Linked DNA regions of Homo sapiens. The protein of the gene in region 1 purifies or fractionates together with the protein of each later gene. This does not show direct contact. Each region holds a gene or a part of one and is shown in the gene's direction. Other genes may lie near its edges.

Region 1 (7,443 bases):
CATAGGGTTCAAGAATGGGGGCAGGAGTGTGGGCCTAGCCAGGGAAAGAGGAGGGTTCAGAGAGTAGACACACACACACACACACACACACACACACACACACACACACACAGTTCACCATGAAGGTGCAGATGCCTGGCTCAGGGAGAAAAGAGGGGAGGGAGAGGGTGGAAAGCGAATGTGTGTGTGTGTGTCGGGGGGGAGATGGCTTTGTGGTTCTGTGAGTGTGTTTGGTGTTTGGGTGTGCATAATGTCTCTGTGTTTATCTTTGTGTGTGCACTTCTGTTTCAGTGTGTCTCTGAATGAGTTTGTTATCAGGGCGAGGGTAGGTTTCTGCACTACTTCTGTCTCTGACTCTGCTTGAGCCTCTCAGCAACTCAGCAGAGAGAATCTTCCCTTCTGGGAGGGTGGGAAAATATAGCTCATCAGGGCAGTATGGGCCAATGCTTTATAAACACACACAAATCACAGGACATTCTTGTGTGTGATCCTTAGCTCCCCACAAAGCTACGGTTGATACACATTTAAAAGAGAGAGAGCTGAGTCCTATGTGTATGCTTGTGCCATTTCTATATGTCTGACAGTCTGACGAGCATGTGTGCTTATGTATTTGATGTATTTGTCACTTTGTCCCCACGGCAGTATCTGTGTCTACAGCTTGGTGTATACTCATGTGTGCTAAGCCCATATTTAACTGTGTCCCTAGTGACGTTTGTCTTTAAGCAGCAACATAACAGGAGTTAGAAGCACAGGCTCCACAGTGAGGCGATCCATTTCGAATCCCTGTGTGGACAGTAACTAATGCATTAACCTTGGACAAGTTTCTTAACTTTTCTATGCCTCAGTTTTCTCACAGGGATAATAATAGCACATGAGGATAAATGAGATCACATTTAGTGCCTGACACAGGTCAGCATATGTGAATGGTCCTGTCTTTGAACGTGCTCCTCTCTGAGAGCTGTCTGCTTGGTTGTGACTGTGGTGTGTCACATCTCAGCTGGATTATAAACTGCTTTTGGGCAGAGCGTGGGTCTCAATTATCTTTAACAATACTCATGACACCTCAGTGTCACCTTGGTGTCTTGTGTATATGTCATCTTGAGGTGAAATGAGACCTGTTTCATGTGAAACAGGACGGGTGTCGGATGCAGGCCCATGCCTGGGGTAGTACATGGAGGGCAGGTGGGAAGCTGGTGATGGCAGTGACAACACAGCCCAGCCGGGCATCAGGGTCCCTCATGGTCACTACTGCATACCTGCCAGGTCTCTCTGCAAACCCAGGCTCCCTCCTCCTTCGTGTCTCAGTCTGGCCTGGAAACTCACTGAAGGGCTTCCTTCCTCCTTTCTCTGCTCACCCCACCCTCGGGCACCAGCCTAGGTGTGTGTTTTTAATGGATGAGATGAGTGCCCTCCAATCTACACCATGCATCGCTGTTTTGCAGCTTGTGTGTGTTTGCCCATGGCTCTGTGGGGGTGTGTTTCTGGGAGCCGTCTTTCTGTCTGATCCCCGCTCCATTACAGTGGGGACATGTGTCTGTGTGTGTGACGTGCCTCGTGCCTGGGGTTTGTTCTCCTCCCCCAGCTTTCCCAGTTACATAAGCAGCTGAGGGGTCCGTCAGGCCTGGGCTGTGGGCTCCCTCTGCTGGCCGCCTCTGGAACCCGCAGTCTGGGTTCCAGAGGGGCCTGGGTTCCAGAGGGGCCTGCTGAAGACACTGTTCTCTCCTTGGGCCTTATCCCCTCTGGAGGGAGACACCAACCCAGTTCTCAACGCCAACCTGCCCCCAGCTCCTTCCCAGCCCCAGGCCACAGGGTAAGAGAGGATACCTCACCTCCCTGAAGACCCCTCTCATCATACTCATACTGGGGGTTGGTTATGACTTGTTTATGAAATGTATCCCTAACATATAGAACTATGTTCCCTGAGGGCAGGGGAGCAGGCCCACCTTGTTTACCATGGCATCTCCAGTGCCCAGTACAAGGCCTGGCCCAATCAATATTTGTTGAATGACTGAGTTTACAGGGTGGAGAGGCTTGGGAGGAGGGACAGTGAGGTGTAGGAAGATTTGGGGCTTTGGGGACAGACAGACAAGCCTGGGCTGAAGTCACCCCTAAGCCACTTAAAAACTGTGTGGCCTTGGGCAAGGTACTTAACCTGCCTAACCTCAAGTTTCTCTTCTGTTAAATGACACCACCTTGCAAAATATGCTATAAGGACTAGGACTAATATCCAAAAGGGCCTTCTTGTGTAAGCATTTCATAAATGACATCTATCATTATTACAATTGGTAACATCTTTCATCCCTCAAGCATCATGAAGGCATTAAATCCACTCGATAATTAAATCCATTATAAAGGGAGAGACGTATTCTTCCAAAAGCTTCCCCTATGAGTTTCAGTTTTCACATAGCTCGATATGCCTGTGGATGGATTTAGATGATGAGGTTCTGGAGCAACCTTCTGGATATTTCAAAGTGGGAATAAACAGGCACCTTATTGCCCTGTTCATGGGCCAGTGCTGGCAGTCCTGGGAAGTGAGGGCTGGACCTCTGATCTCCCTTCAAGGCCTCAGTTTCTCTGGTTTCTCCAGGGTTCCTCAATGTGGCTTCTACTGGCAACCCCGTGAGCATCTTCTCAGAGTCAGGCACTGTGCCACGCTTGAGGAATACCATGTCAAGGAAGGTCTGGTCTGGCCTGTGCCACTTACCCTCTCTGGGCCTCAGTTTCCTCTTCTGTAAAGGGGGGTGAGTGAGTGGGAGGGAAGGGGGATGAGAGGGGAGAGGGAGGATGTTGGAGGGTAGAGGGTGGTAAATGGGCTCTGGGGTCACCTCCCACTGACAGCCACTCTGACAGCCTTGGCTTTGCAAACCTGGCCATCTCTTCTCCCCATTCTGGTCTCATCCTTCCTGCCCCTGCCCACTTCCCATCTTTACAGTTCAGGAAGAGACAGAGCACCTGGGAAGGGTGCCTCCTCCATTCTCCCACCTCCAGGGCAAGCCCCACTCTTCCTAGAACAGAGCAATGTTCATCTCTTCCCACTGTCACTGAACATAGAGACTCCTTCACCTAAATGCCAGGTCTAAACTAAGCCTCTTAGGAAGCAGTTCAAATAATAATTCAAAACCTAAAACAAAATAATCCTTATCTCCCATTTTGTGTTAGTTTCCTGTGCCAAACACTTTATGTACATTACCTATCATCACAATAACCCTTTGGGTGATGTGATCAACCTCAATTCAATTTGCAGAGGAGAAAACTGAAGTTGAAGGAGGTTAAACAACTGGGCTAGGATCACCCAACCCAGAAATGACGTCACATGGACGGCCCCCTCTCCTAATCCATTTTTCTTTTGGTTTTGCCCTCTGAGGGGGTGAAAAACAGGTCTCCAGTGACCTTCTGGATCCTGGAAGCGCCCTTCAGCTCAAACCCTTCGCATTCAGGAACTCCTGGCTTCCGCCAACCCCTACTTCAGCAGGGTTTGCAGCGAGGACTATGGCTCAGAGCAAATAACTGAATTCTAAATGCGTGGTCACAGTCACCTCGCCAATCCCAGGGACCCTGCACCCAACTCTCCAGGAAAGGCTGGCAGGTGCGGGGTGGAATGCGCTCTGTGCGAGGGTGGGTGGGAATTTCGATGCGCAGAGGTGCAGTTAGCTCACTCCTGCGGGGGCCTCGGGCGGAGCCAGGGCCAGGGGCGGGGCGAGGCCGGGGTCCAGGGCGGAGCCAGGATTGGAGGCTGACGTTAGCCCTGCGGGGACGGGGAAGGGGTGCGGCTTGGGACTGGGGCGGGGCCGGGGCCCGGGGAGGAGCCAGGATTGGAGTCCGACTGTAGTCCTGGTGGGGCGGGGCGGGGGAGGGGCCGGAACTGGGGCTGGGCCGAGGCCCGGGGCGGATCCAGGGCTGGAGTCTTGGCGGGGCGGGGCGGGGAGGGGCGGGGCCGGGGCGGGGCTGGGACTCGATGCGACTCAAAGGTGAGTTTCGAGGGGCGGGGCGGGGCCGGGGCCAGGTGCGGAGCAAAGGCCGGAGTCTGGCGGGGGTGGGGCAGGCAGGGCCAAGGCTGGGTCCGGGGCGGGGCGGGCCTAGACGGGGCGGTGGAAGGGGCGGTGCCGGGGCGGGCCGGGGCGAGAATGGTTTCAGAACTGCCGAGGGCTGGAGGGAAAGCAGCGGGAGGGGCGGAGGGAGGGGATTCGGCAGCTCCAGTTCAGCTCGCTCGGCGCACCCACGCCTCGCTGCCCCGCTTCCTGCCCTCAACCTGGGCATGCGCCCCCCACCCTTCCGGCCCCCCAGAACCCGCGCCATCCCCCGGAGCCTCCCCAGAGCTGGCCGCGCAGGATGGGCGCCCTCAGGCCCACGCTGCTGCCGCCTTCGCTGCCGCTGCTGCTGCTGCTAATGCTAGGTAAGCCAGGCCCCCGTTCCGGTTCCCGGCCCTGCCGGGCAGGTGCCTGCCATCCAGCACCCCCCTAGCATTTCGGGGCTCCTCACATCCTCCTCCGTCAGGGGTACCTCCAGCCTCCCCGGGGTCGGCGTCCAGCTGCGCTTTGTGGCTGTCCGCCGAGCCAGTCTTGGGAAGAGTGCAGGCTCCCCAGCTCTAAGCCAGGGACTGGGGCGTAGAGAGGACCCACTAAGGTGCTGCCCCAGGCACTGCTCGGCCTCCCGGGGCAGGCCACACATCTCAGCTAGCATACCCACGTACTGGGGTCGCTGCACCAAATGCTGCGACTCCTTTCTGCCCCACACTCAGCTCCAGGCCTGGCCTTGGGTGCCCGCCCTACGAGGGCAGTGCCTGCCCAGCTTCATAATTGCCCCAGAGTTGGCTGGAGGCCCAGAGGCCAGTTCTGCCCACGATCTTTGAAGTAAGTCTCTCCCAGTTGCGCTCCACGCACTTCATCAACTGGGGGCAGTTCCCTCTCTCACCCCCATCTCCACCCTGGGTTGGGTCCCTCTTTGCCCTTCTTCCTGTCTCCCAAATGGCACTTGGCTCTGCAGCCACCCATCAGTTTTCACACCGCTTAGTTCCAGCTTCCTTGCCTCAGGAGAAACCAGGTTCCATGGAGACTGATCCTGGGATCTCCAAGCACCTTGTGCCTGCTGTGGTGGGTGTTCATGGTGGGGTGTTCTGGGCCAATCTTGCATGGATGCATGGGGATAATGACAGTGGAATTGTTTTTGGCCTGAACTGGAGGGCTCCCTGTAGGAGGTGGTCTGGGGAAGAGTATGGCATGGAGACAGTGAAACTGCCAGTACAGATGTTGATGAGGCTGAAGCCCTTGAAATGAGAGTGAAGCGTGGGGGTGGGGATGGTGACTTCAGAGCTGCTGTCGTCAAGGCAGAGGCTGAAGGTAGCCCCAGCTGCCTGTTTCTAGACCAGAGCTCCACAGTGGCACCAAGCAAAGCCTTCCCCTGCTGCAGGTCCCTGGGCCCTGCAGGGTTAGGATGAGTCCTCTCCCTGGTCCCTGGGCAGGTGGCAGGAGGATGTACAGAGAGGAAGGCGCTGTGGGGCCTGGGTTGCCTAGCACTTGGTGTGTTTTCCCCAGTGGGCAGCATGGAGCAGGGAGGAGCCCAGGGAGGTGGGGAAGTGCTGGCCTGTGTTTGAAAAAGGAGCACGCAGAGGTCTGAGCACCCACTGCCTGTGGGCACTTACATTCATTTCACAAATGAGGAAAATGAAGTAACTTGCCCCAGAGAGCACATTTAGTGAGTGTTGGGGCTAGGATTTGAACACAGATCTGATTCCAAAGCAGGCCTCTTTGCTGTCCCTTTCCTTGCTGCGACTGATACAGAGGAGGGGAGAGAGAGCTGTGTGGCAACTGATTTCCTAAGGCTGTGGAGGTGACTTTCCCATGGGCATCTCCAAGCATCAGCAGTTGTGGAGCCAGGAAAATGGGAGGGGGCCTTCTGAGCAGTCTGCCCTGAGGCAGTCAGGGAAGGTGTCAGCTTGGCTGTCTCCACCGTCACTCTGATTATGAAACTTGCCTGGCCTGGGGCAGGGCTCTCCTGAGTCACATACGCACTCACACATGGTCAGAGCTGGAGCTCTTAGTTCTCCTCCAGTGTGGAAACTGAGGCCTAGGACAGAAAGAGACTGGATCCCAGGCCACACAGCTGGGCATGGGGATGGTGCTGGAATCCCACTTCCTGACTGGCAGCTGTGCCCTTAACAACAGACCATGAGTTCTCCCTGTGACCCAGCCAGAGGATGAAGGAAGGGGCTAGGAGCCCAGAAGCAGGGGTGGGGAAGTTCAGAGGAGCCGTTCTAGAGAAGCTGGAGGGTAGAGTTTGACCACAGACTCCTGGGCATTTTCCTCTAGCTCCTGCAGAAAGTCCATGGTATCCCCCTGGGAGGCCTAAAAGTGACACTCTGGTTGGTGAGGTCAGTCCCTTCAGGCCTGGCCTTGGAGTTTCCCCATCTTCCTCTCTGGTTTTGCCCCTCTGGAGGAGTGTGTGGAAGCCATCTAGGGACAGCATGATCTTGGCTAACATATTATACTTTTCCTGCCTTACCTTTCTCATCTGTAAAATTGGGAGAGGTGGGGAGGGGTGGCCTAGCCCTCTTTACATTGAGGTTCTGTGATCTTATCTAGTGGGAGCTATGGAAGGAAAGAAGGGAGGAGCTAAGCCCTCTAAGTCTGCCAGGAGTATCTGCTGGGGTAGGGTTGGGCATAGGGGTGGAGTAGGGTGAAGAAGAGAGGTTTGGCCTTTCTGAAGGGAGAGAGATGAGAAGGGGCAGCTGGGGATTTAGTGCCTCCCTACAGAAAGAGAGCCATATATGTAAATGAATGCATACCATGTGCAAATGAAGGCTTTTGTTAAGGAACTGGGGCAGGCACCTTCTGTATCTGCTGGGCTAGCCCGGAAGGTTGGCAGGCACTGGAGGAGGGGATCTTCTGCCCCCAATGGCCAGGGCAGAGCCTGGATCTTGCCCCAGAAGCCCCAGCTGCCTGGGCAGCCCTGTGGGGTGAGAGAAGCAGTGAGCTCATGGCGCAGCTGGAGAGGGGAGGGCATTGTGTGGTGAGAACTGACTGGGCCTGTGCCCTTTCCAGCTAGGGTCACTGGCTCCATTGTCTCGCCCAGGTGACACAGCTGAGCCAACTAGCACTTCTGAGCAAGACTGCCAGCTCCCCTCAAGCAAAGGAGAGGGACATGTAGTCTCAGAGTCCCCTAGCCAGAAGGCTCCCCTTGCCAGGTGCTGAGGAAGGAATGGCAGACATGGAGGTGGGTGAGTGGCAGGGACAGATCAAGGTTCAGTTGGAACCAAGGCCTGGTTAGGTCAGGAATCAGATGTACTCCTTTCTGCCTTCAGGTGCTCTGCTTCTAGTCCGCCAGAAATGGGATGCATCTGGATGCCAAGGCAATCCTGGGCCCATGCCACCTCCTTGAGATCCAGGTGTCTTATATCACAGCATCCCTTTCCTATTCTCAGAACAGGGTCCAAGCTGTGGACAAGCT
Region 2 (7,443 bases), on another chromosome or scaffold:
ACTAGTTTATTACAAAGCATATTTTAAAGGATACAGATGAACATCTAGATTAAAAGGGTCTTAGGGGCCAGGCACGGTGGCTCACACCTGTAATCCCAGCACTTTGGGAGGCCGAGGCGGGCGGATCACGAGATGAGGAGATCAAGACCATCCTGGCTACCACGGTGAAACCCTGTCTCTACTAAAAATACAAAAAATTAGCCGGGCATGGTGGCGTGTGCCTATAGTCCCAGCTACTCGGGAGGCTGAGGCAGGAGAACGGCATGAACCCAGGAAGCGGAGCTTGCAGTGAGCCGAGATAGCGCCACTGCACTCCAGCCTGGGCGACAGAGCGAATCTCCATCTCAAAAAAAAAAAAAAAAAAAGTCTTAGGGCCAGGTTCCAAAGGAAACTGTTCCTCTAATCACAACACTTCTGGAAGAATCTCAAGCATCAGAGCTTCTGTTCCCATGGGGTTTGGGAGGTGACACCTTCCCAGCATGTGGATGCATTCACCAACTTGGAAGCTCTCTGAACCCCATTGTTTAATAAGTTTTTATGAAGTTTCATTACCTAGGTATAATTGATAAAATCATTGGCCATTAGTAATGACAGTCAAAAGAAATGTTTTTATATGAGGAATATGAGCTTCCTCTAAATTATCAGGCCCAAAAAAAGGCATGAGAAAGAGACAGCAGTCACATCTCACTTCCTCCCTCTTGCTGAATAATCATCTTTTGAAGCTGCTTGCTATGTGGACTCTAGACTGACTGCCCCCCAAGTAGCTATAAATTAACCTAACAATACTGCATGCTGCACAACATAACTCATACCCTATCATTCAACAATGTATAGCCATCACTAATCAATGTTATTTCTGTAAACCAATGAGAATTCCTGACAAACAACTTTTTATCTGCCCCATGCCTAGTCCCCTTTTTTACCTTTAAAAACCTGCTTGTAACAAAGGCTTAATGAAGCTCATATCCCAGGTTACTTGCATGTGAGTCTTCTGGGCAGCTGTCTTCATTTTGGTTCAAATGTAAACTCTCCACTTTTATTAATTTTGCCTCCGTTTCTTCTTTTAGATAAACTGTAATCAAATCAATCTCCAGCCTCTCTCCTCTCTCTGGAGGTTGAGAGGTGGGGCTAAAAGTTTCAGCCCTCTAATCACATGGTTGGTTTCTCTGATAACCAGCTCCCATCTTCCAAAAGCCACTTCATTAGTGGCATAAACTCAGGTATGGTTAAAAGGGGCTTATGATGAATAACAAAAGATGTCACTATCATTCAAGAAGTTACAAGTGTTTTACAAATGCCCATCAATGATAGCCTGGATAAAGAAAATGTGGTACATATACACCATGGACTACTATGCAACCATAAAAAGGAATGAGATCATGTCCTTTGCAGGGACACAGATGGCGCTGAAAGCCATTATCCTTGGCAAACTAACACAGGAACAGAAAACCAAACACTGCATGTTCTCACTTATAGGTGGGAGCTGAACAATGAGAACACATGGACACAGGGAGGGGTACAACACACACTGGGGTCTGTCCATGGGACAGGGGGAAGGGAGAGCACCAGGATAAGTAGCCAATGCATGCAGGGCTTAATACCTAGGTGATGAGTTGATAGGTGCAGCAAACCACCACGGCACACGTTTACCTATATAACAAACCTGCACGTCCTGCACATGTATCCTGGAACTTTAAATTAAATTAAAATACACATACACAAATGAAAAACATCAGGATAGCAATTAGCTGGGGTGGAGGGATAAGAAAGAAGAGGAAACTCTCAGAAAATTGCAACAATATTGGTAATATTCTATTTCTTAAGTGGAGTAATGGGTTCACGGGTTTCTTTTCATAATTCTGCTTTGTAACTTGAGCATATTTAAATTTATATATACACTATATATATTATGTATATGTAGCAAACATTTTATAAATACAAATGATATTATCTTTATAAAATGCCTTAATGAAAACCTAAAGAAAAAAGTTACAAGGGTTTTAGAAGCTCTATGCAGAGACCACATATATATTTCTTAAGTCACAGGTGGCTTTTAGTATACTCAGTGTTGTGCAACCATCCCTATTATCCAATTCCAGGACACTTTTACCATCTCAAAAAGAAACCTCAAACCCATCAGAAGTCACTCCCTATTCTCCCCACCTCAACATCACATAGGTGACTCTATCAATTCACCTACTCTGGACATTGCAAATATAAATGGAACTATACAATATGTGGCCTCATGTGTCTAACTTCTTTCCCTTAGCATGTTTTCAAGGTTCTTTCCTCAACAAAACTCCATTAGTTTGTCTAAAGCTTTTCTTTTAACAGATCTATAAATCTGTTGTAATATTGTCTTTTGACAGACAACTTGTGAAGGATTTGGAGTAGAATTTGTGATAAATACATGGAATCTTAATTAACTGTTAACAGAAAAATCAAACTCTGTAAATTACTTAAAGAGGTTTATTCAGGGCCAATGAGTGACCACAGCCCCAGGAAAATACAAACCCAAAAAGCCTTAAGTGTTCCCGAGGCAGTCAGATTATAGTTTGGTTTTATACATTTCAGGGAGCCAGGGGTTACAGGCAAAGACATAAATCAATGTGTGGAAGGTATACACTGGTTTGGCTCCAAAAGACAGGATGTCTTGATGTGGGGGGTTTACAAGTTATATGTGGACTCAAATACATAGATATATACACGATATATGATTGATTGATAGATAGATAGATAGATCTCTTGGTAGGGGTAGATAGGGTCTCCCTATGTTGCCCAGGCTAGTCTTGAACTCTTGGCCTCAAGTGATCCTCCCACCTCAGCCAGCTTGACCAAGAGATTTTTTAATTTGCAACTGGTTAAAAGAGTGAGGCTCTGTGTAAAATTTGGAGTCAGCAGAAAAGAATGTTTAAGATAGTATGCCAGAATCAGCCACAATACACTGGGTCAAAAAAGACCTCTTCAGCAAGATTGATGGTCTGCAAGCTTGACTTAACCCTTGCCTTGCACGGCCTTAGGTCTTGTTTATAATTTGGTATCTTACTACCACAAAGTCTGTTAGTCTTATGATCTCTACTTTAACAAGGGGTGTTCAACCTCCCTTTCCAGAATGGCTGGGAACTCAGTTTTTAAGGTTTCTCTGGGGTCTCCTTGGCTAAGAGGAGGTCCGTTCAGTGCTTGGGGGGCTTACAATTTTATTTTTAGTTTACAAACACAAACAAACGTAATTATTTATTTTTATGTTTTTTGTTTTGTTTTTTGCGACAGAGTCTTGCTCTGTCAACCAGGCTGAGTGCAGTGGCAAGATCGCTGCTCACTGCAACCTCCACCTCCCGGATTCAAGCGATTCTCATGCCTCAGCCTCCCTAGTAGCTGGGACTACAGGTGCGCCCTACCACGCCCGGCTAATTTTTTTGTATTTTTAGTAGAGACGGGGTTTCGCCATGTTGGCCAAGCTGGTCTCGAACTCCTGAACTCAAGTGATCCGCCCACCGAGGCCTGGGATTACAGGCGTGAGCCACCGTGCGTAGCCAAGTAATTATTAACTCCACAGAAAATAAAAGGCTGTGCAGGAAGTAAAAATTAATCAAGTCCATATATAGACCTCAGATACATTTCGTTTGGGCTATCCTGCACTTTACTTTGTAATTAAACACCACTATTTAAAAATCAGGAAAATTGCACATAAAAATCCAGCTGCAAGTGGGCGCTCTGGAGTTCCCCAGTCTCCACTCACTCGTCCTCCCAGCCCCCACAGGCCTCAACGTCGCCTATCCCACTCCACCAGCCCAGTCTTCCACCGCCCTAGGAACTCTCCTACGCCTACGCAAGCAGGGAGGGATAGGGTGACAGCACCGACAACAAAGGGTCGTCTCCCGCACTCCGTATGAGGATGGCGTACTGGTCGGGGGGCAACCGAAGCCTTTCTTCCTAGGTTCTTTATCTTTTCTAAGTTTCCCATGACCTATCGCTCCGCTTGAGCCCTCAGCAAAGATGTCACCCGCCGAAAGGTGTGGCCGGAAGCTGGAGGCGTGGCTTCCGGACGTGCGGGGCGAGGCTCGTCTCGTTTCCGCCGGCGCTCCGAGTGACGTAGGGAAGCGCGCCGCGCACCTCATGGTTCCGGGGACAGTTAGGGCGGCGGATGGAGGTCAGCGGTGGTGCTCGCTGCGTAGGTCTTGTGGCACGGGGAGAAGGGGCGGCTGATCGTGGGTTTCGAGTGCACAACACAGGCGTGGCTGGGAAGGTCCTGGGATGCGGTGGAACTGGGGAGCAGGCTGGGACGCGGTGGGATGCCGTGGGCCTGGCCGTCTGCTCGTTCCGTGCTGGCTTGCCAGTGCGCACGCTTCCTCTCTAGCCCGCGCGGCCAGGCCTGGAAGACGCCGCCCCTGTTGACCGTCCATGACCCCAGCGAGCCAGTTTTCGTGACTTAGTGCAAGTTGTTTTCTCTCTGCATTTTAGAACTAAAGTTTTGGATTGCTGTTTGCCTAAACTCAAGTCTGGCTCCTGGGCTTCCGTTTACTCGGCTAAACTGCTCTTAGGGCTCTTAAAAAATTGGAAAGGCGGCCGGGCGCGGTGGCTCACTCCGGTAATCCCAGCACTTTGGGAGGCCGAGACGGGTGGATCACTTGAGGTCATGGTGAAACCCTGTCTCTACTAAAAATACAAAAATTAGCCAGGTGTGGTGGCGCGGGCCTGTAGTCCCAGCTATTTGGGAGGCTGAGGCAGGAGAATCGCTTGAATCCGGGAGGCTGAGGTTGCAGTGACTCGAGATCGCAGCATTGCACTCCAGTCTGGGCGACAGAGCGAGACTCCGTCTCAAAAAAATAAGTCGGAAAGATTTCTACACTGTGCTTAGGCTCAGGAAGTGGTAGATGTTGCGTTTGGGCAAATACTCCGACTCTCTGATCTCTCTCTCTTTTTTTTTTTCTTTAAGTGGAGTTAGACTAAGCTTTTTACAGCTGCTTTAATCCCCTCATATAAAAAGAAAATGTGCTGGCCATATACCAAGTTCCAGGAAGTGGAGAAAGATCAAACGTACATTCTGCTTTGGCAGAAATGAGGCCTAGGTGAACGTTTTATCTTGCCCTTGTCGCATGTCTTCCCTGGATCATGTAATCACCGTAGGGAGCTAGACTAGCTGATAGAATTTTTTTTCTTTTTTTTTTTTTTTGTGACAGAGTCTCGCTCTGCCACCCAGGCTGGAGTGCAGTGGCGCGATCTCGGCTCACTTCAAGCTCTGCCTCACCCTCCCTAGTAGCTGGGACTACAGGTGCCCGCCACCACGCCCGGCTAATTTTTTTGTATTTTTAGTAGAGACGGTGTTTCACCGTGTTAGCCAGGATGGTCTCGATCTCCTGACCTCGTGATCTGCCCGCCTCAGCCTCCCAAAGTACTGGGATTACAGGCGTGAGCCACTGCGCCTGGCCGATAGAATTGTTAAAAGCAACATCAAGGCTATATGTAACACATTGCTGGAGATGGCAACATTGAGTTTGGCCTTGGAAGGATGAGATGTATTTTAAAGGGTCTTATAGGGGGAGGAGGAGACCCAGATAACAAGCCCTGTAAGGTGAAGTGGAAGTGCAAGGCCTGTTTAAAATGGGGCCTTGTGTTGCTGGGAGGCAGAAAAAGCTAAGACTGAGAAAATCATTCTGGGCCATGTTATGAAGTGCTTCTTATTATTGGTTCAGAATTTTTGCTGTTAGAAATTTGGTGGGGGGGTTTTAGTAGGCTAGTGATGTAATCTACCTTGGTTTCGAGAGGCTCACACCTATGTCTACAGTGTTAAAATATATCCACAGAGGCTTTGGGAATGTGAATTTTTTTTTTTTTTTTTTTTTGAGATGGAGTCTCTCACCCAGGCTGGAGTCCAGTGGTGCAATCTCAGCTCACTGCAATCTCCGCCTCTCAGGTTCAAGCAATTCTTGTGCCTTAGCCTCCCAAGTAGCTGGGATTACAGGCGTGCACCATGATGCCCAGCTAATTTTTATATTTTTAGTAAAGATGGGGTTTCACCATGTTGGCCAGGCTGGTCTCAAACTCCTGACCTCAAGTGATCCACCCGCCTAGGCCTCCCAAAGTGCTGGGATTACAGGCGTGAGCCACCACGCCTGGCCAAGCCCGTAATTTTTAATCCTGGTTACCCTTGAAATAAAAAAATAAAAAAAAATTAATGCTGTCTAGGTCGTGTCTGCAGAGATGCCATCATTTAGGAGGCCTTGGGCAGGACCTGGGAATCTGAATTATTGAACCACATCCTAGGTGATTTCAAATTACAAGCAGGATGGAAACCCTCCCACCCAGGCTGTAATGTTCCTGAGTTTTGATATTTGATGGCATTCTGTACTGAAACAAAAATCCTGTGAGACTTTTGCTTTAGAAAATACTATCACATACCTATGGATTGTCAAGAAAGACTTAGTCTGATTTTACAGATAGAGTGGCTTTGACTATTTCATTTCTCAAGTTTGTGAGTCAGGAACTGCCCCTGTAGTAGCCCCTTCTCTCTCCTTTTTCTCTTCAGGGTTTGGAATCACTTGCTAGGAGTCTTGTCTCTCTGCCACCCAGGACATCATGGCAGCTCACCTGGTAAAGCGATGCACGTGCCTCCTGAGAGAAGCTGCTCGTCAGGCCCCTGCCATGGCTCCAGTTGGCCGACTGAGACTTGCCTGGGTAGCCCATAAGACTCTGACTTCCTCAGCCACCTCACCCATTTCCCACCTCCCAGGTTCCTTGATGGAGCCGGTGGAGAAGGAACGAGCATCTACTCCCTACATAGAGAAGCAGGTGGACCACCTCATCAAGAAGGCCACAAGGCCAGAGGAGCTCCTGGAGCTACTTGGTGGCAGTCACGACTTGGACAGCAATCAAGCAGCAATGGTACTTATCCGGCTCTCTCACTTGCTGTCTGAGAAGCCAGAAGATAAAGGCTTGCTCATACAGGATGCCCACTTTCATCAACTTCTCTGTCTGCTCAACAGTCAGGTGGGTGCCGGAGTGTGGTCTGAGAGCATAGACAAGAGGAAAACAGCCAGAAATGCTGGGGTCCACAGCAGCCAGTGCTTACCAAGCATAGACAGGGGCCTTGCATCTCTTGTGATATTTTTTATTTTTTTATAAATTTCAAAGTGCTTTATCGTGCTTTCTCTTTGTTTATCCTTACAAGAGGCCTGTTAGGTAAATATTGCTATGCTCGTCTTACAGACAGCCAAGACGCATAGTGATAGAAGCATGGGAAGTGAGCCTGGTTCTTCTCAGTTCTTTGGGTGCTTTCCCCCTCACCATATAGTCTTGACTTGTATTGCTCTCTGCCAGTGTCTGGCTGATGGCAAGGCACTGTTTTTGAAGCCAAAGGAGATGCAGCATGACTGATGGAAGGTCCTTGAAACTTGAGACAGACGTGGGCATGATCTAGCCATGTTCAGACCCTCCAAGGATGAC
Region 3 (7,359 bases), on another chromosome or scaffold:
CCGAGGTGGGCGGATCACTTGAGGTCTGGGGTTCAAGACCAGCCTGGGCAACATGGCGAAACCCTGTCTCTACTAAAAATACAAAAATCGGGCCGGCCACGGTGGTTTATGCCTGTAATCCCAGCACTTTGGGAGCCCGAGGCAGGTGGATCACGAGGTCAAGAGATCGAAACCGTCTTGGCCAACATGGTGAAATCCGTCTCTGCTAAAAATACAAAAATTAGCCGGGCGTGGTGGCCCATGCCTGTAGTCCCAGCTACTAGGGAGGCTGAGGCAGAAGAATCGCTTGAACCCAGGAGGCGGGGGTTGCAGTGAGCCGAGATCGCGCCCTACACTCCAGCCTGGCGACAGAGCGAGACTCCGTCTCAAAAAAAACAAAAAAAACAAAAACAAAAAAAGAGGCAGGAGAGGCTGGGTGCGGTGGCTCACGCCTGTAATCCCAGTACTTTGGGAAGCTGAGGTGGGCGGATCACTTGAGGTCAGGAGTTCGAGACCAGCCAAGGCCAACATGGCAAAACCCTGTCTCTACTAAAAATACAAAAATTAGCTGTGCATGGTGGCATATGCCTATAATCCCAGCTACTCAGAATGCTGAGGCAGGAGAATCGCTTGAACTCAGAAGGCTGAGGTTGCAGAACTCAGATCGCGCCATGGCATTCCCACCTAGGCCACAGAACAAGACTCCATCTCAAAAAAAAAAAAAAAGGAAATGAGGCAGGAGAATCAGGAATGAGGGTAATCAATGGTTAACAAGGGTTAAGGCATAAGCAAAAGATCAGCAGGTGCAGCCAGTTCTGGGCAAGATAAGGCAGCATAGAGGCCACATCTGCACTTCTGTGATAACAAGACAGAAGTTTCCACTTCAGCCATGAGTGTTAACCACATTCTTTCTGCTTAATGAAGACCCTAATTGAGGGGTCTCTTGAGCTGTGTGGTCTCTTGAACTTCGTGTCAATCAATCTGTGCTTTTTACGCCATTTGTTTGTCTTTTGTTGATTTGTTTTTTGTTGTTGTCGTTGTTGCTTTGTGGGGTTTTTGTTGCAATTTTTATTTATTTATTATTTTTGAGATGGAGTTTTGCTCTTGTTGCCCAGGCTGGAGTGCAGTGGTGTGATTTTGGGTCACTGCAACCTCCATCTCCCGGGTTCAAGCAATTCTCCTGCCTCAGCCTCCCGAGTAGCTGGGATTACAGGCATGTGCCACCACATCCAGCTAATTTTTAGGAGAGACGGGGTTTCGCCATGTTGGCCAGGCTGGTCTTGAACTCCTGACTTCAAGTGATCCTCCTGCCTCAGCCTCCCAAAGTGTTGGGATTACAGGCATGAGCCACCGTGCCTGGCCTAGTTTTTGTATTTTCAGTAGAGACAGGGTTTCGCCATGTTGGCCAGGCTGGTCTTGAACCCCTGACCTCAGGTGATCCACCCGCCTCGGCCTCCCCAAAGTGCTGAGATTATAGGGGTGAGTCACCGTGCCCGGCCTTGTGTTGCAATTCTCGGTTCAACGCGCAAGCCCCTGACCAACTCACAGCCAAGACTTTCCATCCAGTAACAGAAAACCTGCAGGAGGACTCTTCCTGGCAGAGGAAACACAGAATGTAGAACCCCTGGAGCAAAAATGACCCTGATGTCTTTTCAGAGGGGGAAAAGGCGGCAGGCAGTGGGGTGGGTGATAGAGGCAAATAGTAACCAGGGAGACAGATAAATGAGCCCTTACAAACTTTTGATGTGTGACTACCAGGGAAAGGCCTTTGCCAGGGGCTGGAGTGTAATTTTTTTTTTTTTTTTGAGACGGAGTCTTGCTCTGTTGCCAGGCTAGAGTGCAGGGCGCGATCTTGGCTCACTGCAACCTCCGCCTCCCAGGTTCAAGCGATTCCCCTGCCTCAGCCTCCGGAGTAGCTGGAATTACAGGCATGTGCCACCACATCCAGCTAATTTTTAGGAGAGACGGGGTTTCGCCATGTTGGCCAGGCTGGTCTTGAACTCCTGACTTCAGGTGATCCTCCTGCCTCAGCCTCCCAAAGTGTTGGGATTACAGGCATGAGCCACCGTGCCTGGCCTAGTTTTTGTATTTTCAGTAGAGACAGGGTTTCGCCGTGTTGGCCAGGCTGGTCTTGAACCCCTGACCTCAGGTGATCCACCCGCCTCGGCCTCCCCAAAGTGCTGAGATTACAGGCGTGAGTCACCGTGCCCGGCCTTGTGTTGCAATTCTCGGTTCAACACGCAAGCCCCTGACCAACTCACAGCCAAGACTTTCCATCCAGTAACAGAAAACCTGCAGGGGGGCTATTCCTGGCAGAGGAAACACAGAATGTAGAACCCCTGGAGCAAAAATGACCCTGATGTCTTTTCAGAGGGGGAAAAGGCGGCAGGCAGTGGGGTGGGTGATAGAGGCAAATAGTAACCAGGGAGACAGATAAATGAGCCCTTACAAACTTTTGATGTGTGACTACCAGGGAAAGGCCTTTGCCAGGGGCTGGAGTGTAATTTTTTTTTTTTTTTTGAGACGGAGTCTTGCTCTGTTGCCAGGCTAGAGTGCAGGGCGCGATCTTGGCTCACTGCAACCTCTGCCTCCCAGGTTCAAGCGATTCCCCTGCCTCAGCCTCCCAAGTAGCCAGGACTACAGGTGCGTGCCACCACACTTGGCTAACTTTTTTTTTAAATTTTAGTAGAGACGAGGTTTCACCATGTTGGCTAAGATGGTCTCGATCTCCTCCTGACCTCGTGATTCGCCCACCTTAGCCTCCCAAAGTGTTGGGATTACAGGCGTGAGGCACCGCGCCTGGCCTGCAATGTAATTTTATGCACAAAGTGCAGCCTTGCAAAGTCCCAGGCAGGGTGCAGGCTTTATCTGAAGGTTCACAAAGTCACCCTGGCTGCTGAAGAGGGCACAGCAGAATGAGAAAGCACAGTGGGGTGATGAGCCCAGGCAGGAGATGAAGGTGGCTCAGACCAGGGTGGGGCAGTGGGGGTACTGAAAAGCGCTCAGACTCCACCCCGCCAGCTGCAGGGTGGTTTCAGACCCTGAACTCGAGGGGTTCCTAACACGGGCTCCTTACAGCAAGGGGCACAGATGGAAGCAATGTTGTCCCATGCTTGCAAGTCTCACAGAACGGGATATGAGTCCCACACCTGCCATTGACAGCCTGGGTCTCTAGGCTAGCTAATTCCTCCAGGCCTGAAGCGTCCCTCCTTATAAAATGAAAATTTCGGTCAGGTGTAGTGGCTCACGCCTGTAATACCAGCACTTTGGGAGGCTGCGGCGGGAGGATGGTTTGAGGCCAGGAGTTCAAGACCGGCCTGGGCAACAGAGTGAGACTCCGGTCTCTACAAAAAATAGGAAAATTTATGGAGAAACCCCATCTCTACTAAAAATACAAAATTAGCTGGGCATGGTGACACATGCCTGTAATCCCAGCTACTCAGGAGGCTGAGGCAGGAGAATCGCTTGAACCCAGGAGATGGAGGTTGTGGTGAACCAAGATCGCGCCATTGCACTCCAGCCTGGGGCAACAAGAGCAAAACTATGTCTCTAAATAAATAAATAAATAAATAAATAAATAAATAAAAATAAATTAGCCGGGAGTGTGGCACGTGCCTTTGGTCTCAGCTACTCAGGAGGTTGAGGTGGGAGAGTCGCTGGAATCCAGGAATTCAAGGCGGCATTCAGGAGTTCAAGGCTGCAGTGAGTCATGATTGCGCCACTGCACTCCACCCTGAACGACAGAGCCATACGCTGCCTTAAACAAACAGACAAACAGGGCCGGGCGCAGTGGTTCACGCCTGTAATCCTAGCACTTTGAGAGGCCCAGGCGGGCGGATCACTTGAGGTCAGGGGTTCGAGACCAGCCTGGCCAACATGGTGAAACTTCGTCTCTACTAAAAATACAAAAATTAGCCGTGGTGGCGCGCTCCTGTAATCACAGCTACACCGGAGCCTGAGACAGGTGAATCGCTTGAGCCCGGGAGGCGGAGGATGCAGTGAGCCGAGATCACACCCACTGCACTCCAGCCTGGGAACAGAGCGAGACTCCGTCACCAAAAAAAAAAAAAAAAAAAAAAAAAAAAAAAAAAAAAAAAGGAAAAGGAAATATCACCAGAACGGATATCACTGCACTCTTCACGAAAAAGAAAAAGAAAATACCAGAACGGATTTCACCGACCGGCAGACCTGCAATCGACTCAGCCAGCGCCTTCCGGATCAGCGTTTCTGCGCAGGCGCAGACAGCTCCGGCGGAAGAGGCGGTGTAGGGCTCAGTGCGCTTGCGCCGATCTCGGCCTCAGCGTGAGCATGCGCAGGTCCCCGCCCTCGCTGCGTTTGCGCTTGAGCGCCGATAATTTGGTGGCGGCGTCCGGAGGGTGCTGGTTTGTTCTCGGTGAACGGCGCGCGGGGTCTCTCCTGAGTGCGAGCTACGGGACCTTCGCCATGCCGGGGATGGTACTCTTCGGCCGGCGCTGGGCCATCGCCAGCGACGACTTGGTCTTCCCAGGGTTCTTCGAGCTGGTCGTGCGAGTGCTGTGGTAAGGACGGCGGCTACGGGGGCGGTGGAGCCCACCGGAGAGGGAGCGGGGGGCGAGCTGTCCCTTGAGACGGTGACAGAAGTGGCTTCCCAAGCACTGTCGCGGTCCCAGCGCTGGCCACGCATCCTCTTATCGAGTTCTCACCACTGCCCGAAGAGGTGGGCAGTGGTGCTGTGTCCATTTGACGGATGACAAACCGAAGCCCCCAGAGTGTGTGGGCTGACCCCGGGGGACAAACAGGGGGTTTCGAAGTCCGCGCAGCAGGACGCGAGCACCCCTTTGTGTGCAGCGCCGAGACCTGGCCCTGGGGTGCCACGAGGGTGTTACCGCCGGCAAAAGCCTTGGCCTCGAGTTCTCCTTTCTTGAGGCGGGAGCAGCCACTTGTGCCCTTCCTTCCCTTTGTACGGGGCACTTGAATCTGCAACACGAAGGATAGGAAAAAATACCGAGCCGGTTGTGGCTGCATTTCGTGAGAAGCAGACAGGCTCAACATACAACGCTGTTGTCTTTCAAAGTGTGGAATCAGTGGGAAGTGGCATTGGTACCTGAAGTCTGTTCCCAGAGGATCTGTGCAGGGAATGAATCATTGTTATGCAAAAGTAGATTCTTGGCTGGGCGCCATGGCTCACGCCTGTTATCTCAGCACATTGAGAGGCTGAGACGGGAGGATTGCTTGAGGGCAGGAGTTTGAGACCAACCTGGGCAACATAGTGAGACCCCTTTTCTTTTTATTTTTTTGAGACAGGGTCTCACTCTGCTACCCAGGCGGGAGTGCAGTGGTGCGATCACCACTCACTGCAGCCTCAACCTCCTGGGCTCAAGCGATCTTCCCACTTCACTCTTCCAAGTAGCTGGGACCACAGACTCGTGCCACCACGCCCAGCTAACTTTTTCTATTTTTTGTAGAGATGGAGTCTCACCGTGTTGCCCAGGCTAGTGTCCAACTCTTGTGCTCAAGTGATCCTCCTGCCTTGGCCTCCCAAAGTGCTAGGATTACAGACGTGAGCCGCCGTGCCGGGCCTAGATCTTTTATTGTTGGCAATTATATTCCAGGCCAGGTGCAGTGATTCATGCCTGTAATCCCAGCACTTTGGGAGGCCAAGGCAGGAAGATCACTTGAAGCCAGGAGTTCAAGACCAGTCTGGGCAACATAGCAAGACCCTGTCTCTACAAAAAGAAAATTATATTCCAAAGTGAACCTTGCCTTGTTTTGGAAAATATTAACTCCTTTTATTTCTTTTTTTTTTTTTTTTTTTTTTTTTTTTTTTTTGAGACGGAGTCTCATATCGTTGCCCAGGCTGGAGTGCAGTGACACGATCTCGGCTCACTGCCACCTCCACGTCCCAGGTTCAAGCAATTCTCCTGTCTCAGCCTCTCGAGTAGCTGGGACTACAGGTGCGCACCACTACGCCCAGCTATTTTTTTTTTTTTTTTTGTATTTTTCGTAGAGACAGGGTTTCACCATGTTGATCAGGATGGTCTCGATCTCCTGACCTTGTGATCCGCCCACCTCACCCTCCCAAAGTGCTGTGATTACAGGTGTGAGCCACCGCGCCCTGTCCCCTTTTATTTCTTTGTATCATGTTCTACACAGCAGCTCCTTGGATTTCATTTCTGACCCTTCCCTTTTTTTTTTTTGCCAGGTGGATTGGCATTCTGACGTTGTATCTCATGCACAGAGGAAAGCTGGACTGTGCTGGTGGAGCCTTGCTCAGCAGTTACTTGATCGTCCTCATGATTCTCCTGGCAGTTGTCATATGTACTGTGTCAGCCATCATGTGTGTCAGCATGAGAGGTAAAAAGTAGCCTTTTCTATTTGATACCTATTTTTTTATAGCTTTATTGAGATATAATTCACATACCATACAATTCACTTCTGTAAACTTTCCAATTCAACAGTTTTTAATATAATCACAGAGTTGTGCAGCCATCACCATCATCAAGTTTATACCATTTTCTTCACTCCTGAAAGAAATCCTGTACCAGGCGGGACACAGTGGCTCACACCTGTAATCCCAGCACTTTGGGAAGCCGAGGTGGGTGGATCACTTGAGGCCAGGAGCATGAGACTAGCCTGGCCAACACAGTGGAACCCCATCTCTACGTCTCTACTAAAAATAGAGAAAATTATGTTGGTGCATGCTTGTAATCCCAGCTGCTAGGGAGCTGAGATCATGCCACCGTACTCCAGCCTGAGTGACAGAGTGGAGACTCTGTCACAAAACGGAAAGAAAGAGATCCCATACCCATTAGCAGTCACTCCTCATTTTCCCCAAACTCTCCCAACCCTAAGCATTCACTAATTTGCTTTCTGTCTGTGTACATTTGCCTATTGTGGACATCATATAAGTGGAATTTATTCACTGTGTGGCCTTTTGGTCTGGTTTCTTAAGCTTAGCATAATGTCTTCAAGATTCATCGATGTTTTAGCATGTATCAGTACTTCATTTTGATGGCTGAATAAGAGCATCGAATGAATGGACCACATTTTATTTATCCCTTTGCCATTTGGTAGGCATTTGGATTGTTTCCATTTTTCACCTATTACGAATAGTGCAGCTATGAACATTCGCATACAAGTGTTTATACAGACATGTTTTCATTTCTCTTGAGTGTGTACCTAGGAGTGAATTGCTGGATCATGTGTTAATGCTCTGTGAAACCTTTTGAGGAACTGCCAGACTTTTCCAAGCAGCTGTACCATTTTACATTCCCACCAGCAGTGTATAAGGGTTCTAATTGCCCAACGCTCTTATTATATGACTTGTTAATTATAGCCATCCTAGTGAATGTGAAGTGGTAGCTCATGATTTTGTTTTGTTGTGTTTTGTTTTGTTTTTTT
Region 4 (8,289 bases), on another chromosome or scaffold:
TAGATCAGACAAGAGAAGACCTTCGGAGAATGCAGGACTTTATCAATGCAGACTTTTTCTACAAATGCTAATCTCTCCCACAAAAGACAGCTTTTTAGCTATTATTTTATTTCCAGCCTTTCTGAATAGTCATCTTGAACAATGTCAAGAAAATATATTTGGGGGTGAAATATTTTCATTTCCTTCAAGATCACAAAATCACCTCAAATAACAACTCACTGATAGAGTCATAGAGGGTAACACCAAAAATTTTTCTGATGAGCCTGATATCAGAGTGAATCACAGAAATCCTGTATTCTAGGCCAGTGCTCCTCAGCCTTTTTTTATTATTGCTTCCCTAGGAATTCATTTCAGATGCTTTTGCCTGATTCCCTCCCCCATGACATCTTAATGTCATAGCTTTACTAGCACATGTGCTGTCTGCATATCCATGCATTATATATTAAAAGAGAGATTTTTTTTAATCCCTCAAGCACCAGCTTTTGCCTCCATCGCATGTTCTAGACCCAGATCTACCATTTACCTTGCTATGTTTTTGATATAGTTTGTATATTTGTCCCCACCCAAATCTCATGTTGAACTATAATTCCCGTTATTGGAGGAGGGGCCTGGACAGAAGTGACTGGATCATGGGAGTGGATTTCTCTTGAATGGATTAGCACTATCCCCTTGGTGCTGTCCTTGAGATAGTGAGTTCTCAGGAGATCTGGTCATTTAAAAGTGTTTGGCCCTTCCCCGCCAACTCTCTCTCTCTTGCTCTTCCTTTTGCCATGTGATGTACCTGCCCCTCTTTGCCTTCTGCCATGATTGGAAGCTTCCTGAAGCCTCCCCAGAATCAGATGCCACTATGCTTCCTGTATAGCCTGCAGAATCATGGGCCAATTAAACCTCTTTTCTTATAAAATACCCAGCCTCGGGTATTTCTTTATAGCAGTGCAAGAACAACCTAATACCTTTTTCTTAAGAAAAGCTACTACAATTTCTGAGTGTTGGTTTCCTCTTGGAAGACTGACCAGAAAGCATGACACTAGTCTCAATTTTCTGCCAATATCTGTCCCTCCACAGATACTACCCCACTAATGACCTTGTCCTTTGGCCCACTTACAGCATTTAGTTGCACATATGTGAGGGGTATATATTGTCAGTTAGGTGAATGCAAAATTGAGCTACATTTTTCTTTAAACTGCCATCGATGTCATTTTCAAGGCCCCAGTCAGTTTAGAGCAGACAGCCTATTTATTCCATTTTGCAAGCTCAGAACAGTCTGACAATTTGTCTGTCAGTTTCAGGATTTATTACCATCAGTCACATTGGAGTTCAAAGTCCTTTCTCCTCTCCTGGGCCACAACTGGATTAGAAACATTTACATTAAACAGGAGGGGAAAAAGTGTAGCTTCTCTGTCCTTCCACTCTACCTCTTAGTCATTGCATTGTCATGCAGCTGCCGTTCAGCAAAATCTAAAGGGAGTAGTCCCCATGGCTTCATTGTCTTTCTGTGGCTGGCAGGATATAACTTTTGAAGTTGGCACAGTTTGATCTCTCACCCAAGCAGAGTCAAATGGCTCTGCCTTGTCATACACTAAATGGTCTGTTGGTGCCCATCTGGGCATCTCACCCACACATACTTCTAGTGTCGCCTCACTACTGAGCAGCATCTCGAAGGGTGCAAACAAGCAGGTGCGTGCTCACAATCACATTCTTGTGTTTATCTAGACCTTAGGGATTCCAAGGGAAAACAAGGCCAAGATGGGGAAGATCTTGTAACTTTCCTACCTGCTCTGTTGTCTGCCACTTAGCAACCACATGAGAAGCAGGTGCCAATTGGTCCCTACATTCAGAAACATCTGCAACCTTTCAGGAAGAAGCACCTTCCCTTTGTTGGGAGACTCCATCAGGGAGGGCAGAGGTTAAAGCCCCAGCAAACTCCCTTTCCAACTCTGTTTCATTCATACCACATCTTCTGATGGGAAAGCATAGTAGGGCAAGGTGAGAGCATTTATTTTAACTGAAAGTAAATAAAATATTTTATCTTTTGTCCTGGCTCTGAGTTTTCTCCACTATAATGCAGCATATCTCACTTAGCCAGCAAGTGGAGAATAAGGAATTCATCAGCAGACTGTAATAAAAACCGTGACATATATATAGTATTGGAATTTACGAATCATGTCTTTTCCTTTTTATTTACTTATTTATTCTTTTATTTTTTATTTTTTATTTTTTTGAAGTGGAGTCTCGCTCTGTTGCCCAGGCTGGAATGCAGTGGCACGATCTCGGCTCACTGCAAGCTCCACCTCCTGGGTTCATGCCATTCTCCTGCCTCAGCCTCCCGAGCAGCTGGGACTACAGGTGCCCACCGCCATGCTCTGCTAATTTTTTTTTTTTTTTTTTTTTTTTTTGGTATTTTTAGTAGAGACGGGGTTTCACCATGTTAGCCAGGATGGTCTCAATCTCCTGACCTTGTGATCTACCCGCCTCGGCCTCCCAAAGTGCTGGGATTACAGGCGTGAGCCACCACACACAGCCTACTTATTTATTTTTAAAGACAGCATCACCCTATGTTGCCCAGGCCGGCCTTAAGCTCCTGGGCTACCTCCCCAGTAACTGGGACTACATGCATGTGCCACCATTCCCGGCTTGTCCTTTTCTCTATCCTACACTCTAAGAACTTAGAAGCAGAGAACTTAACAATTAAACACTTCAAACTAAGTTTTATGTATCTACTTCCCCTCACTTGTATCTCTCCCTGTATCCTATTGCTAAATTAATGATAAAATTATCCACCCAGTTCAGAAGGATTACTCAGGGAGCCTTCCTCATTCTTATCAGCTATATTTGACCGACCATTCAATCCTGCAAACTCCACTTCAGCAATATATCTCTGTCATAAACCCCTCTGTGTCTTTCTACTGGCTTAATTCCAGCCTTTATTGCCTTTTGGTTGAACAACTACAATAAATTCCTAATTGGTCTCCTGGTCCATGGAACCTCTCCCTTCCTACACTGCCACAAGAGCATATATTTCCCAATGATATGACCAGATTCCTCCCCTGCTTCAAAATATTTGACCCCTGTGGAAACAACAATACAAGCCCTTTACTTGAGAAAGGAAAATATGAAATCAGACATTTTTCTTCCAATATGGAGAGAATAAGCTTTAATAGGAATCTTGAAGAAAGCTTGAGTCATTGACTTCAAGATCTTTATTCTGGTACTGTGTTGTAAATCCTTTCTCTTTGCTGATAACAGAAGCTCTAGAAAAAAAGACTATCACTGAAGGAGCCAAACAGAAAACCTATTTGCTAGCTAATAAAATTGGGCATAGATCAAAATAAAAATTAAACTGATCATGCTTGATCTGTTCAGTTTCGTGAGATTTCTCTAGTGTTTTCCTGCCATTTTCAGCGTAAAGAGATAAGAATTGTGTTGCTGCCAGACTCTTTTATTATCCACATAGAAGGCAAGTCTTTATATTTGTCAAGGTTTACATGATTAGGAATCATAAATCACAATTAACTACTGCTTAGGAGATAAAGGTTCATGAATTTTGCATGTTGTTAATCACCTTATCACCCTTTCAGGGTTTTAATCTGCTCTTTCTTCATGGTATTAAGTTATCACATTATATTTTTTCTATGTTCTGTCTCTACCAGAAAGTAAAGCCACAGAGCAAGGACTTTATTTTGTTAAAATAGTGGTAGCACACACGGGTTTAATTCATTTGCTGTTTTTTTGTTTTTGTTTTTTTGGTTTCTTTTTTTTTTGAGACTGAGTCTCCCTCTATCGCCCAGGCTGGAGTGCAGTTGCGGGATCTGGGCTCACTGGAACCTCCGCCTCCTGGGTTCAAGTGATTCTCCTGCCTTAGCTTCCCAAGTAGCTTAGATTACAGGCACCAATCACGCCTGGCAAATTTTTGTATTTTTAGTAGAGACAGGGTTTCCCCACGTTGGCCAGGCTGGTCTCGAACTCCTAACCTCAAGTGATCCACCCGCCGCGGCCTCCCAAAGTACTGGGATTACAGGCTTGAGCCACCACGCCCGGCTGATTCATTTGTATATATTTCTAGAACAGAGCTTGGTACGAAGTTGAGCATTCAGTAAATATCTGTTGAAATAGAGGGAGAGTGAAAAAGAAAGTAACTCTCTCGCGTATTCCACAACTAGCTCTTCACCTATCAAATTACGCGCAATGGAAACATCTTAGTCCTCAGAGCAATCCTGGGTGCAAGGCAGAGGCGGCTGTTATCAGGCCTATTACACAGGTTTAGGGTGAAACTTGAAAATGTGGGCGGGAAAGTCACAAAGCAATGAAAAAACCATCTAGAAAAAATCTTTTCTGGATGTCACCATCTAACATTTGGCATGAGACCCCAGAAACCGGATGACTCGGCTCAGAAGCAGACACATTTGAAAAGATATTTATCTCACGATAAATTAAGGGACAAAAAGGCCTTCAAAAAGGAACGGAATAAACGGAATAATTTTTAACTCTAACATTACTTTCTTTCAATTTTTACATAATTCTTATAGCTGCGGCGAGTGAAACGACTAAAACAAAAGCAAAACAGAGCTCCACTGCCCAAAACAAAGATGGCCGAGACGACTCCCATGCCCACACGCAAAATGGACGCTGACTATGACGTTCCCTGCAACAATCCTCAACTGGCCCCGCCCCACCAATTTGGAACCCCGCCTCCTCAACCCGGAACCCCGCCTCCCCCAGTGTGGCCGCTTTTCCGACAGAGGCCTGCCCGTGATTGGCTGCTCGTACTATTTACGTCCTTTCGATGTTGCGTCATGCAGTGCGCCGGAGGAACTGTGCTCTTTGAGGCCGACGCTAGGGGCCCGGAAGGGAAACTGCGAGGCGAAGGTGACCGGGGACCGAGGTACTGCTCCGGCTGGCCGGCGGGCGCCCGGGATCCCCGGTGGTCCTGACAGCCGCCCTCACGGGACCGCTGGGTGCGGGGGGAAGGGCTGGAAGCAGCGGTGCTGCTGGCTGCGTCAGGGCCGGCCTGCGCGTTGGGGTCGCAGTCCTGTGGGTGACCTGGTGGAGAGGGCGGCGGCACAAGGCCCTGGTCAGGCGGGCAAGGGCTCAGTGTAGCTGTGCTTCTGTCCTCGGGCAACAAGGTGCTGAGTCATCCTTGCGGCGAGGCCGTACAGCCGCTGCGCTGGTAGCGGCACCTGGGGCAGGGGCAGAGGTGTTGTGGGTTGACAGGGAAGTTTGCTGCCGGGTTCTCATCTGAATCTAGCGGGCTGGGTGAACTTTCTCGGGGACCAGGCACCCAAACTCATCAATGCTCACGGAGGCATAAGCCCTTGGATTAGGGTCGGTAGTATTTTCCCCATTTTATAGCAACGACATCTGAGTCTTAGAGATCCACACTCCTCACAAGGTCACTTCTAACCTGTCAGAAGCGGGATTCCCACTCTGGGCTGTTACGCCACATGGAGGTCACTCTGAGCTGGACCTCTTCGGCCCCAACCAGTGGACTGAGTACTGAGGAAGATACAGGACAGCCATAGGTTGAGATGATGTAATGGCACGAAAGTTCCAAAAGCGCTGGGTGTTTTCCCAAAGGCCGGGTGCCGAATTTTAAGACCCTTAATAGTTCAGTTGCAGAGCTCGGAGGACGCTCGGGTATCTTAAAGCAATAGTTCTTAGCTTTTGGAGTGTTCGTTAAAACACACGTTCTTGGTCTTATTCCTAGGGGTAGAATCATTAGGAGCAAAGAAAGACCCAGGAGCCTACATTTTAAGATGCATCCGGGGCACTTTCAAGCAGGTAGTCTAAGGGTCAACGCTGTAGTCTGAACACGGAATCCTTATGTTACAGATGGGGAAATGGGCCCAGAAGTATATCACTTGCCTAGAATTCACTACAAATCATTGGCAGAGATGGGCTGGTAGCCCCAGTTGGTTTACACTCGTCATTTCATTCTGACCTATTGTAGTCACCTCACCTTAGCATTACAGAAACACTGTCTGCTGACTTCTGGTTGACCACCCATCTAGTATAATGTGCCCTGGAGCTAAGATAATCCAGTTTTTAGCATGCTTTTCTTTTGAAGACACCATCGAGGGAGTCTAATGTAAGGGAAACCTGGTTGGTAACTGAGTTTACTTGTTTACTTTGAAAGACTAAATGTCCTTTACGCATTATAGTAGGACATATAGAATAGGTTAACTTAGAATATTTTTATATCTCATGTTGAAGGAAAGTAATATTTGGTATGATTAGCTGAAATTCATATAGTTGGCTTCTTTTAATACCTTTTAGCTTTGTAATGCAGTATAACCTTGAAGAGCTATTCATGTCTTCTTTGGATGACACTATTCCTTTGCCCAAAAGTTATGTAGATTCTTTTAAATTTTCCCACTGGATGCTGGTATAAATCTTAAGCCAAAACTACATTTGTAAAAACCATCACAGACTCTGTAATCACGTCCAGTTATTAACAGCCGTTCTGTGTTACACATAATTTTTGCAGTCATCTATTTTGATTGGTCAAACTGGGACTTAAACCTAGTTTGTTCCTCCATCTTCAGCTGTGTTCTCTGGGATGGGTTTCTTGCATTACAGTGGATGGTTGGGCAAAGAATTCATCGCTGAAAATTAAAAAGGTCGCTTTATTTCCTGTTCTACTAAAAAATAGTTTGTTCCTTGACTCTGACTCTCATATGTCCTTCTCTTAATTGGTTAGTAGGTTGTTTTACTTATGTTTTTTTGGTTGGTTTTGCCTTTTTTTTAAACTAGCATTTCAGATCTGCTCGGTAGACCTGGTGCACCACCACCATGTTGGCTGCAAGGCTGGTGTGTCTCCGGACACTACCTTCTAGGGTTTTCCACCCAGCTTTCACCAAGGCCTCCCCTGTTGTGAAGAATTCCATCACGAAGAATCAATGGCTGTTAACACCTAGCAGGGTAAAGATAATCTGAATGTTTTTATATTGCTTCTTTTTCCATTTGTGCCCTTTCTTTTTGGCAGAGTATGGCTGCTCTGCCTTTAGTGTGTTATACGTCAGTTAGCCCTGATAATATCCCCAATCAGCTCTTTCTCCCCATTAGTTTGTATCATTCTGGTCCCTCCTTATCCCATATGAAATAGAAAATGAGTTTCTGTAACTCTGTCTTCGCTTACAGCTTCTGGAGTTTCTCATTTAGAAAATTTAGAGTACATTGTGAGGGATTGAGAGTTACATAGTGTAACGGAGATCCTGGAGCACATAGTCAGAAGTTTAAGAACCCAGGGATATTACCAGTTGGCCAATAGCTTATTAATAAATTACTAAATATATTATCTCTTATTTAGAGGTTGATAATATCTGTCAGGTTAGAAAGAAACCCATTTTTATAATAGATTTATCTTCTGGCATTCAGATTATAAGGTTTGAAGTGTGAGGTAATGAGGACAATATAAAGAAGCTAGGAGACATTTTCTCTTTTAAATTAACTGTTCCACTGTTGAAAAAGAGCCACAATGGAAGTAGTAGTCTTCCCTCTTCTTGGCTTCATGTTAAGGAAAGATGCTGTTCTTGAGTCCATATCCCAGATGACAAAATATAGCTAATAATGCTTGTAGAATGCATATCTTAAAAATGCTAACAGATTCTCACCCTGGTATTTGGTTAGGATTTAAAATATAACAATTCTAGGTATGTAAATCTATAGTTTGTGAAAGAAACAATTTTTCTGAAATTGAAACTAAGAATAATATAATGAATTACTAACTTCCAAAGGTGGAGCACAGGGAAGGTCTACATTTATTTATTTATTTTTACATTTAGTTTTTTAAGTTGGCTAATAAATTTCCATAGTGAAGTTAGGTATATAGAAAGTACCAAGTTTCTTTAACTAGAGTTTTCTAGTGTAAAGGGATCTTGCATTTTATTTTATTAACGTTCTGTTTTCATGTGGGTGGTACGTGTCTTTGTTTGCATGTGTGTCAGGAATATGCCACCAAAACAAGAATTGGGATCCGGCGTGGGAGAACTGGCCAAGAACTCAAAGAGGCAGCATTGGAACCATCGATGGAAAAAATATTTAAAAGTAGGTGGCTATCTTTAGTTTTTAACCTAGAATCTATGGATATGTTTTAAGAGGTCCATGAACAACTTCCTAAAAATATATGTGTATTTGTGCATTTTCTGGGAAGACCACATTATTATTCTGAGATCTGACGACCCAGAAAAGATTGGTACTTTGCACTGGATTCAGTGGTTATCAATCATATTTCTTCCAGTGGAAATTTTACTTTCCTTTTTTTTAAAGAAAAGGATTATTAATATGCCATGG

Evidence for each region.
Region 2: the proteins of IGSF8 (region 1) and TBRG4 purify together in Homo sapiens (affinity purification with mass spectrometry; 4 studies listed by BioGRID and IntAct, with this or other methods). This does not show direct contact.
Region 3: the proteins of IGSF8 (region 1) and DAGLB purify together in Homo sapiens (affinity purification with mass spectrometry; 4 studies listed by BioGRID and IntAct, with this or other methods). This does not show direct contact.
Region 4: the proteins of IGSF8 (region 1) and GHITM purify together in Homo sapiens (co-immunoprecipitation; 2 studies listed by BioGRID and IntAct, with this or other methods). This does not show direct contact.

Annotation. Positions count from the first base shown.
Region 1 is NC_000001.11:160,095,359-160,102,801, reverse strand, and holds the start of IGSF8 (immunoglobulin superfamily member 8 precursor), read left to right. Parts: upstream 1-4,182; 5' UTR 4,183-4,329; coding exon 4,330-4,393; intron 4,394-5,010; exon of another isoform or gene 5,011-7,381; intron 7,382-7,443. UniProt on the Homo sapiens protein: Member of the immunoglobulin superfamily (IgSF) that links tetraspanin-enriched microdomains to the actin cytoskeleton and plays several important roles in innate and adaptive immunity.
Region 2 is NC_000007.14:45,108,371-45,115,813, reverse strand, and holds the start of TBRG4 (FAST kinase domain-containing protein 4), read left to right. Parts: upstream 1-4,116; 5' UTR 4,117-4,144; coding exon of another isoform or gene 4,145-4,171; intron 4,172-6,526; 5' UTR 6,527-6,570; coding exon of another isoform or gene 6,571-6,576; coding exon 6,577-6,987; intron 6,988-7,443. UniProt on the Homo sapiens protein: Plays a role in processing of mitochondrial RNA precursors and in stabilization of a subset of mature mitochondrial RNA species, such as MT-CO1, MT-CO2, MT-CYB, MT-CO3, MT-ND3, MT-ND5 and MT-ATP8/6. May play a role in cell cycle progression.
Region 3 is NC_000007.14:6,444,906-6,452,264, reverse strand, and holds the start of DAGLB (diacylglycerol lipase-beta), read left to right. Parts: upstream 1-4,310; 5' UTR 4,311-4,422; coding exon 4,423-4,517; intron 4,518-6,160; coding exon 6,161-6,312; intron 6,313-7,359.
Region 4 is NC_000010.11:84,134,712-84,143,000, forward strand, and holds the start of GHITM (growth hormone-inducible transmembrane protein), read left to right. Parts: upstream 1-4,797; 5' UTR 4,798-4,882; intron 4,883-6,750; 5' UTR 6,751-6,789; coding exon 6,790-6,918; intron 6,919-7,943; coding exon 7,944-8,043; intron 8,044-8,289. UniProt on the Homo sapiens protein: Plays an important role in maintenance of mitochondrial morphology and in mediating either calcium or potassium/proton antiport. Mediates proton-dependent calcium efflux from mitochondrion.